2 separate regions of the Homo sapiens genome follow, and region 1 is linked to region 2. Evidence: fine-mapped expression QTL. A gene starts in region 2. The other region holds a variant in brackets. All regions are shown on one strand. Distances are from middle to middle. Region 1 overlaps FRYL (FRY like transcription coactivator). Region 2 holds the start of FRYL (FRY like transcription coactivator).

The links. PIP is the estimated chance that this variant, and not a neighbour inherited with it, causes the effect.
Region 1: its variant is fine-mapped to the expression of FRYL in stomach (GTEx, PIP 0.99).

Annotation. Positions count from the first base shown.
Region 1 is chr4:48,520,313-48,525,696 of GRCh38, reverse strand. FRYL (FRY like transcription coactivator) reads left to right here. Exons shown (of 64, transcript NM_015030.2): 54 at 2,593-2,796; 55 at 4,482-4,649. Among named protein-coding and RNA genes, the nearest start is that of ZAR1, 33 kb to the right of the region's middle. The variant C/G (reference allele first, on the strand shown) is at 2,441.
Region 2 is chr4:48,777,552-48,782,935 of GRCh38, reverse strand. FRYL (FRY like transcription coactivator) reads left to right here and starts at 2,657. Exons shown (of 64, transcript NM_015030.2): 1 at 2,657-2,858. RefSeq lists silencers at 2,612-2,721, 2,812-3,691.

The DNA of each region.
Region 1 (5,384 bases), 260 kb after region 2:
GCTCTCGTATACATATACATATACAACTCATACAGATCATACACACTGATCAACTCTCATGTACATATACATATACAACTCATATACAGCTTATACACATTCATCAGCTCTTCTTGTAGGGGTGTTTCCTTTGGCTCTAATAGGTGAGGCGGAGGAATGAAATGTAATGCACTCTCCCGTATCACACTGTTCATTGTCCATGGAAGACCAGTTTGAGGAAGTAAAGTTCCCTCTCCTCAACATGCCTCAGTGCCCCCTGCAGATGTGAGGATGTGACCATGGTGCCTCCAAGTAATGCAAATGCCTTCATGTCAGTTTAGGAGCTGTGTAGGCTCCTATGGAATACTCCACCATTTACATTTTCCCAAAGACACAATTGTACAGGTTCATAGGAACTCAAGAACAGGTATTATTTAGCACCTTTCAGAGCAGTAGCTTTTAAACTTTTTTTTGACACTAATCCACAGTTAATACATTTTACATCACATCCAAGTGTGTGTATATATATATATATATATATATATATATATATACCTTTAAAAATAAAAGTTGCAAGAATATGCATCCAAACTCTATGCTGTGCATACTGATATTTTCTATTCTCTTCCTTTTCATTCTTTTTTTTTTTTTTTCAAAAAGTGTAGGTTACCACCCTAAAATTAGTTTCACACTCATCATTTGAAAAAATATATTGTAGGAAATAGAACAGACTTGCACAACCAAGTAACGGAGTGGAATAGGTTAAAGAGACCTGCTGCCCTACCCAAGGCCAGGAGCAGCTTCTAAACTCTTCTGTAGTTAGTTGCTTTTTTCAGTCCAGAATTTAAATTTCTAAAGGCAGCTCTTGACATTTTTGTAATGGTAAGGTTATTTTTCTTTTTGTTTGCCTCTTGTTTAAAGAGAACTGTAAATGCTTTCAAGTTCATTCAGTGCTCTAAAATGTCAGTGGTAATAAACATGGCTTTTAATAGAACCTTAGAATGGACTAAGGATGTTCATTTGTAGTTCTGTCTTTAATTCAAGTCACAGTAATCAGGGGTGGGGTGGAGCACGCTAATTTATCCCTCATAATTACGCCAAATCAGCGATACACATTTTCTAAAACCTGGATATAGTCTTGTTTAAAACATGGTAATAGGAAATACTTTGATTGCTACAAAACAAACTTAACCACTAATGAAAATTATAATAAAATATCTCCTCACTTTGAAAGCCCACAGTGCATATTCATTCACTCACCAAATATATATTGAGTGCTGTTGCCATTATGTGTTTTGGTACATAATAATATTTGAAATGATATGTTCCAGGAAGGTGGTTTTCAAACTCTGACATGCAGGGCCCTAGGGCTTCCAAGATATCTTCAGAAACAGCCGGGACAGATTCAAAGATCCAATGGGCCAAGTTCCTGGACACCTTCAACCAGAGCAGCTCTGGTTTTCTGTTTTGCACAATTGACTGCCATCTAAAATTTCATTTGAAATAAGTATTCTTCTGCTTTCAAAAAAAAAAAAAAGATTTGAAAACTTCTAATCTGGACAATTCCTGTGTAAAGGGATACAGAAAAAAAAAATCATATTTTGGTAGCCAGCTCAATATAGTTTGTCATATCAGGGCCTAAGAAAAATTGTAGGGATTATATCCTTACAAAAGGAGGAGCAGCTTAGAATAACAGAAACATAACTTATATAAATCCTTAAGTGGGAGAAATTGAAATTTGTCATATTTCCTCTTGACCTTTTAAAATTGGCAACAGTTATGTTTTGATGGCTGTGATCTTGATTTTAAATTATATTTTGTAGCAAAAAATGACCATTGAATTTAGCCAGAGCTATCCTACCAACTGAAATAATTGTGACCTTGTATGTTGTCAAGTGCATGTGGGTATTTAAAGTCAGTTTTTGCATTGTACTAAGTATTAAACCTTTGTAAATCTTGAAGATTTTCTTAAAGTTTGTGTTGCCAAAGTGTATCATAGAAATGTTGTTTTAAGTGTCTGTCTCTGACTTTTTCACAACATATTTTGCATAAAAAAAGATTTGAATCACATGTTGACTTTCTGCACAAAGCTTAATCCAGAGCTTGAATCAGTCTTTGGGTTTGAGAAATCACAAAGAGTTTGCCCCAAAAGTGTAGTGTATATTTAAATGTTTGTCTTCGTTTTTTTCTAATTCTGTGTGTTTTCCTTTTTGCTAACCAGGAGCTGCAGGTAAGTTGCAGCCTGGTGTTATGGATTGTTTATTTGTTGTCATCTGTGATGTATTTGTCTTCTTTGTGGTCTCATTCATGTTTGTGTATTAGAATAGAAATGGCTTAGATAGTAGATTTACTTGGTCCCCAGTAATACAAGATAGAAAGTCAAGAAAATTATTTCGTTAAAACAGGTTGTCAACCAAATAATTTTGATCTTTTTAAATATAAATATTTGATGGTGTGTTAA[C/G]AGTTTAAAGAAATTGAAGGGCTGATTGAAACTCTGCTTTTAATGATGCATTAAGTATTTTTCATCTTGGTATATGTTTTTCTGGTATATTACATTTAGTACATTTAGAAGCATGTATTTGAGGTTTTAGAAATCGTGTCTTGCTTTTCCAGGGTGAAAGTATGGACAATTTCAACTGGGGAGTTCGCAGGCGCTCACTGGACAGTATTGACAAAGGGGACACTCCATCCCTCCAGGAGTACCAGTGCTCTAGTAGCACCCCCAGCCTGAACCTCACCAATCAGGAGGATACAGATGAGTCCTCGGAAGAAGAAGCGGCACTTACAGCAAGCCAGATACTCTCACGCACACAGATGGTATACAATTCACTTTTCTTACAGTGACATTTGGTCTCATTTTCCTCTTAACTTCCAACTTCTTAATGATTATTTCTTGTGCATGGGTGAAATGCACACACTGAAATGAATCTACAAGATTGCAACACTAATGGAGTACCGTGTTGTTATTCATGACAGCACTAAACTTATTAGGTTGATACTGCACACCTATTAGCTGCTAAAATATAATTTCTCTTGCTTCTTTCCTAGTCACAGTGAGTTGTTTTGGGCCCTATTAGAGGCCTTCAGTGATAACATATTTTTGGTATCAATGTGAGCACCAACACCATTTAATTCACCACTCACTTTTCTTTCCTAGTTAGCATAGTGTGGAAAAACAGAGCACAAGTTTGGTCCCTTTCGAGATCAAGTAGAGTCAGTGGAAAATGAAAGCTGCAAGAGTAGCCTGTTATTTCAGAAGAGTACGGGTGCAAGAAAAGCCAGTGGTAGGGCTGGAACTTGAAGATGGCACTGTAAAGAAGGAGAAGGCACATGGAATAGCTACCCTGGTACATGTGATAAGGAAGAAACCAGTGGAGACCAGGCACCAGCTATGGTTACACAGCTCTTACAGGAATGCCTCCTTTTTTTATTCTTTAGGCACAGGGTCTCACACCATCACCCAGGCTGGAGTGCAGTGGCACAACCATAGCTCACTGTATTCTTAAACTCCAGGTCTCAAGTGATCCTCTTGCCTCAGCTTCTCAAGCAGCTAGGACTACAGGTGCATGCCACATATGCACAGCTAATTTTTTTAAATTTTTTGTAGAGATGGGGTCTTGCTATGTGGCCCAGGTTAGTCTTGAACTCCTGGCCTCAAGTGATCCTCCCACCTCGGCCTCCCAAAGTGGCAGGATCACAGGCATGAGCCACCGCACCCAGCCACCTACCTTTAATTTAGATCCATTTGCTCCACTCGGCCTGCTGGTAAAGTGCTGGCAGTGATGTTGAATGGAAGGGCCTGAGCTGCTTTAGGCACAATGTCAAGTTGTCGGTTTGTGGTTGGTGTCCAGTCATCTCTCCTGTATTTACATCTCATTGGTGCCCCAGTTTGTCTTTCCACTAACTGCCCCTCTCCCATTTAAGTGTTCAATGACCAACCGCTGCTGCTAATGGCAGCCATAATACGTTACCACTTACTGACTGTCTACGATGCACCCGGCCCTGTTCAAGGTGTTTTACGTGTATTAGTTACCATAACTCTCCTCCTAACACAAGGCAAGTATGGTTATTGCAGATCTGCATATTACATGTCTTATCCCAGGACACATAGCTAGTAAGTAGATGTGAATCAAGCAGTCTGTCTCTAGTGCCCATTCACTTAACCGTGCCACATAAATCTTCGTCCTCCATGAATGAATATGAATTCAGCTCCAATATGAATTTCAGCTCAAGGTTAACATAGTTACATAGAGCTCTTCCACTTTGATAGTTTTTGTTTAGCAAAATTTAGCCTGTATTAATGTGTACTTAGTTCTACCGAGGGATTAGCTGCTTACCCTAACAACACCCATTCTGGTGTAGACTGGAAGGAAAGAAAGATGATTTTAGGAAATCTCAGAAGCTCTTTATAACGAAGCCCCTAAAATATTTTATGATAGAGAATGTTTCCTGTGGCTTTTGACTCATAAATGAATTCCTTATTTTACTCTTTCTCTTTTTAGTTAAACAGTGATTCTGCCACTGATGAAACAATACCAGACCATCCTGACTTACTTCTCCAGTCTGAAGATTCCACTGGCAGCATCACAACAGAGGAAGTGCTTCAAATCAGGGATGAGACCCCAACTTTGGAGGCTTCTCTAGATAATGCTAACAGCCGGCTGCCTGAGGTGGGGAGAAATGGAGGCTGGTGCATGGCCAATCTGGGCTCTTTTTAGCACTCTTTTATAGCTCCCGCTTTTCTTTCAAAAAAGTTTTGAAGTTGATTTGTTTCCAGTATTTCTAACCTGTTGAGTTATTTTAAATGAAATAGTCAAATCTGATTTTTTCTTAAGTTGGTAGATTAAGGAAATGACCTACAGGTTAAAAATAATCTTGAGTGTTTTTAATGAGCAGTTTGCATTGCAGAACATGATGAGGTTAATGTACAGACGCTTCTCTGGGGTTGGCGAGCATCATCTATTGCACTGTATTTTCTTAGAAGGACCGCTTTGGTTTTTTCTTCTCTTTTTGCTTTGTGTTGGGTTTATGTGATTGGTGCTGTGATTGGGATTAAAACCTCAGGCCAGCTGTGGTTTTTAGCAGTTGTTAAATGAAATCTTTTAAAAAGACTTTGGAACCACTAGTATTATGTTTTTTGGAAAGGCCTGTGAGAAGTAAGCCAGATTTGAAGCTAATGACTGACCAAAAATAAGTAAGTATTAGTGTTTTTTTTAAAGATTATTATACTTTTTAAAAATGTAATTGCTATAGCTCTGCCATATGTGCTTTTTTTATTCCTTGGTAAATATTAGGAAATGCTACATTTTGTCACTGTTCATCAAATTAATGTAGTTATTAGATCTAATCTAGGTATCAGATCTTATTATTTTTGTAAGGTGATAAAACACTATTGTGTTCTTGTT
Region 2 (5,384 bases):
ACATTGGAGAAGGGTGTGTGTGTGTGTGTGTGTGTGTGTGTGTGTGTGTGTGACAGAGTGAGACTCTGTCGCCCAGGCTGGAGTACAGTGGTGCAATCTTGGCTCACTGCAACCTTCGCCTTTCGGGTTCAAGTGATTCTCCTGCCTCAGCCTCCCCAGTAGCTGGGATCACAGGCCTGTGACCATTCCCACCAGCTAATTTTTGTATTTTTTGCAGAGATGGGGTTTCGCCATGTTGCCCAGGCTGGTCTTGAACTCCTGGCCTCAAGTCATCCACCTGCCTTGGCCTCCCAAAGTGCTGGGATTACAGGCGTGAGCCACTGCACCCAGCCGAGAAATATTCTTTTTTTAAAGAGTGGGGATTGGGCTTAGAATGAGAAACTAAGGTAGAGAGATAAAGTCTCTCTGAATGAGAAAGTACAACTTGTAAAATTCTCCAGGGTTAGAACTGGGGCTGTGTTCATCAACACTGAACATTCTTAAGAATAACCTCTACGTTGTAAGCTCCAGGTTTGTAGATTTTTAAAATTCTTCTTTGCTGTGAAATGCCAGTAGGAGTATTAGTACCAGGAAGTTGCATGTGTGGGCTAAAAAGTGATAAATGATCCTATTGTGGGCAAATATGAAATATTTAGAGAAAAGAATAACACAAATTATACTTGAAAGGTGATAATCTCAGCATAGTTGGTTCAATGCAAGTAAGAGAATCTAGAGGTTACTGTAGACTGCCTTCTCTAGTTTATATGCCCAGTCTGCTAGTGCAGCAAAAGAGGGCAGTAACAAGCTGGATATCATAGGGCAGGTGTTTTAGAAAGAACCTGAAAACATCACTTAGACCTTGAACAAAAGCTGCAGGTGTGTACATGCCTGAAACACTGGATATCTTTATCTCCAGAAGATCATACTAGATATCAGTACATAGTATCTTCTTCTTCTTATATTCTAATGTAGAATATTAGAACCCAGAAGCAGTCTCAGAGTTTGAGAGTGGTAAGTGAGTAAACCAGAAGTATTAGTTTAGCTTGGCTGCAGTTTTATTATACAGTAAAATCAGAATAGGCTAAGCATAGGGATTTAGTTATAGGGACTTAATAGGGAGGATGTGTGTATCTGTGAAGGCCATATAAATGCAACCCAGATAGTTCATCGTCTCTTGCCCCCACTAGTGATACCTAAACCACCTTCCTGCAACGTTCCCTTTTGTTTCCTGCTCTTTCATATTTTCGGGAATCCTCATGAAATTTTTCACCTGTATTTGGGGAAAAGTCCTATGAACTACCAACTACTGATGTTTACTTACCCTTCTCTGTCATCATCAAGCCCCTTTTCTAGGGTACTGCTGAGCACTGACACTTCCTTGGCACCATTAGATTATACTGGGGTATCACTGCAAATGTACTAAAGCCCCCGGGGTACACAGTCTTCAAGGTTCATCGGCAAAGAGGGAGAGAACACATAACCATTTTCCCCTAACATTCTTAGATGGGTACCGAAGCTGTACCTGTACTCAATTTTAGTGGAAATAAACCTTTTAGTTCTTACAGCTCCAGTGGGAAACTGGGGAAACTCTAAAGCAGACCCCGCACTAGGCTTCCCCATAATTTCTTCTCTTTTCAATGCGTGAGGTTCTGCTCCATGGTCAAGCTTCTGGTATCAGATTCCCTCTTTCCCTTAGACAGACTCGTTTTCTCCTGAGAGGCATCTCAGTTGTTCAAGTGACCTGGGGTGTTTTTCCTACAGTTCTAGCAAGGGGGAACGAAGTCCTACACTTTGAGGATGGCATAAGGGTACCATCTACTTAATTTTTTCAAAAAAGTAACAGGTCTCGTGGAAACGCGGGAACGTCACAGAGGACGTGACTTAAACGGAACTTGTAATGGAAATGATTTTCTAAATGAACAATTGCGAGACAAGCAAGGAAACCTCCAGGTTTGCAGATAACTTGATTAAAGCTCTTCCGGGTGGCAAAATGCCAGTGCAATCAATGGTATGAGTAGGGCGGACAGTGGATGAAACTTGTTGAGTAAATCTCAGGAGGAATTAGCACTGGACTTTCAGGTATTCTAACTCAATTCTAACCATTCCATTCTCTGGATCATTGGATAAGGTTCCGCAGGATCCGGGCGCCAGCTCTGGATACATTACTGATCGGGAGAAAATTTTGAATTTTTCTCTTGTCCCTTTCCAGCTTTCCTCAATATAGGATATGAGTTTGTCCTCGACCCCTAACAACATTTAAAGGTAAAGTCGCTCCTAGAAGGCAAAGCGGAGAGGACTTTGCGGCTGTGTTTCTCAAGCCCGTAAAGAGAGAGTAATAATGGTAGGGAGCGTGCAGACTAGCTCTTTCCTTGCCCAATCAAGTGTACAGGAAGATGTCCTTTCACCAATAAAAATAAAGTTCGCTTTCCGGAGGCGGGAGGGTGAGCCTTGACTGCCAGGGCTCCAAAGCAACGTTAGAGGCGAGGGCAGAGAATGATTAGAGGGAAGACCAACCCGGGAAAAGGGGCGGGGAGAAGGTAGGAGCAACTTTGAGCGGCGGCTGGCCAGGCCAGTGGAGGGCGAGGACTGCTGTTCCTGTTGTAGTGTTTCTCGCCAATCAGGAAGGCCAGGGGGCGGGCGGGGTAGGGAAGGGGTGGGAAGACCTCGCAGCACAGCCGGGCGCCCGTCGGGCTCTGGGAGAGAGCGAGAGAGAAATCCGGTTAAAATCAGAGTCGGAGGGAGGTTTAACCACAGATCGGTTCCGATCGGATTATTCCTTAAAGGGGACGCGCCATTGTCAAGAGAACGGAGCCAGGGGCCCGAGGGCGGGGACCGGCGGCGCTGGAGGAGCGAGGCAGCTGTACTAGGACTGGGAACGGGTAGGTGTTGACTGGGGAAAGGCGCTTCATTTTACTTTCTCTTCCAGCCCCGGGGCAGGCGCCGGGATGCCCGCCGCCGGCAGCCCAGCCTGGGCGGGAGACGAGGTCGTCGGCCCTCGCCAGCTGTCCTTCCTGGTGGGCGCCGAGGGAAGGCGGTCCAGGATGGCTGGCAAGCGGCGCGGCGCGGCCCGGGCCGGCGCTCGTAACGGACACCAAACCGCGGCGCAACCCCAGCCTCAACCGAAAGCCCGCCCGAGCTCCGGCGGTTCCGCCGGCAGCGCCGCGCGCCCGTCTCTCCCGCACGTCCCCTTCCCCTCCAGTGCCTGGCTCTTCTCGCGCGCGCCCGGGTACCCCTCGCGCGCCGCCTTCTCGCGCGTCCTGCTCTGGTCGCGCGCCGCCTCGCCACCGACTCGCGGGAGCCGCCCCGCGGGAAGGAAGGCGGTGGCAGAGGTGGAGGAAGACCGGCGACCACGGCTCCGCCGCCTCGGCTGGGAAGGGAGGGCTGAGGAGCAAACTTAGCGCGGCGGCTGGCGGGCCCCGGCGGGCAGGGCTGGCGGGGACCGGCGGAGCGCGCCAGCCCAGCCGGGCATTGTCCGCCTTTTCCCTTGCTCTGGTCTCTCCGCCCACTGCTCGCGGTCCTGGGGAGGGGTGCGGGCGCTGTGCCCGCGCAGCCCCGGGCCGTTGGCGTACCCCGGGACCCGGAGTCTTCCGGAGCCGGAGCCAGCCCTGCGGACACCGCGGCCACCGCCCGCGAGCTGACTCGGCCTGTAGATTGCCTGCTGCTCTCAGCCTCGGCACCGGGCAGGGTGCCTGGGCGCTGAGCTCTTCTTTGCAACTTTTATTTGCCGTTTGATGGAAGTTGTTGCTTCCGGGCGGCAGGTTCTTTGGGCACAGCCTGGTTTCCTGCGTTCTGGAGAGGCTGGTTTCTAGGGCGAAATGATTTATTGCTGCCGGTCTTTCCTGCCATCCTAGTTTAGTTCCTCGCCACCTAAAATCGCATTTTTGTGGATTTGCAATGATATGGGAGCATTAATCTTTCCTAGGCCAAGATTTGAAAAGAAAAAAAAGGGGGTGGGGGTTAGGGTGTGTGCTGGTGAGGAGCAAGAGTTCTTAGTAGAGCTGAGTTTGCCCTTACCTTTGAACTGCGGAAAATATTACTTCGATTCACTGGCTGGGGTTCTTTTGGAAGGGTAGGGGAAAAAAGACACAGCAAGACAGGTTGCCAGGGTCTGTCGGATTGGGGGGGAAAAAGGGTTTTGATGGAAGTAAAGTTGGTTTTATAAAATGCTGTGCTGCCTAGGAGATATCGTCTGTAAAGTTGATTCTGCTACTGAATTTACAGCCATTATAATTAGTACCAACAGCTTTTACTATTGATAAAAACTAGTATAAGACGTCTTTTCATCTTGAGCATTATCACTCTGCTTAATCTGTCAATACTTGCCGAGGAAATCAGAGATAGCACATTCCTTGTTAGAGGCCTTAGTGAAGAATGTTTTCATAAGCATTCATTTTTGACAGTTTCTTCTTGTGCAATACTTTATGTAGAGTACTTGCATGTGCAAGTTACAACCGTATAAACAAAGTAGCAGTGGGTGTGTTATTCTCTGGTCTTTTTTCTGCTACTCATTATCAAAAATAGCATTCCATCGTGTCTTGTCTTCCACTCTGAATTATTTTGTAAAATTAGTTCTCTAAAAGAGGGAATTCTGTTGGAACATGTGACCCAGTTTTTTTTTTTTTTATTAAAGCAGTCCAACTTTTTAAAGCGTTCATCGATTAATTTATTGTCTAGTAACTTCGGAGTGGTGTGGAACATTGTAAATTCACAGGCTCAGCAGTAACAATAGAGAAACTACTTGGGAAATTGGAAGCCAATATCAGATAATGTTTGAAATAAAAATCTATTCTTCTCACAGAATTTAGGAAATAAAGACACACAAAAACAAATTCTTTGGGTTCAAGTGATCCTCCCACCCCAGGCTCCGTAGTAGCCGGGACTACAGGTGGGCACGACTGCGCCTAGCTAAAATTTTTATTTTTTGTAGAGATGGTGGTCTCACTTTTTAATTTTTCGTATAGACGGCTGGTCTCCAACTCCTGGCCTCAAGCGATCCTTCTGCTTTGGCCTCTCAAAGTGCTGGGATTACAGACTGAGCCACCGTGCTTGGCCGTTTGTAGTAATCTTGATGGTATCTGGCATTGTTTCACCTAATATTTCTTCTTTTTTGTTTTTTTCTTTGATCCATTTCTGTGATAAGGATGTCAGGCAAGCAGCTAGGCATAATCTTCCTTCCCATCTCATAATAAAAGGAGACGGTTAAACCAAGTTTTTAAATGTCTGTCTTTGTTTACTTACCAATTTATTTAAACAATAAAAGAATTTCTCAACTTTTAGAAGAGAACATATGAATAAAACATTCAGAAATAATTATCTTTGAAATATCTAGACTGTATTTCCTGAAAAAGACTTTTTCCTCTTTTGTGCTTTCTACATTGTTTTAAACACATTGTTTTATATGCACA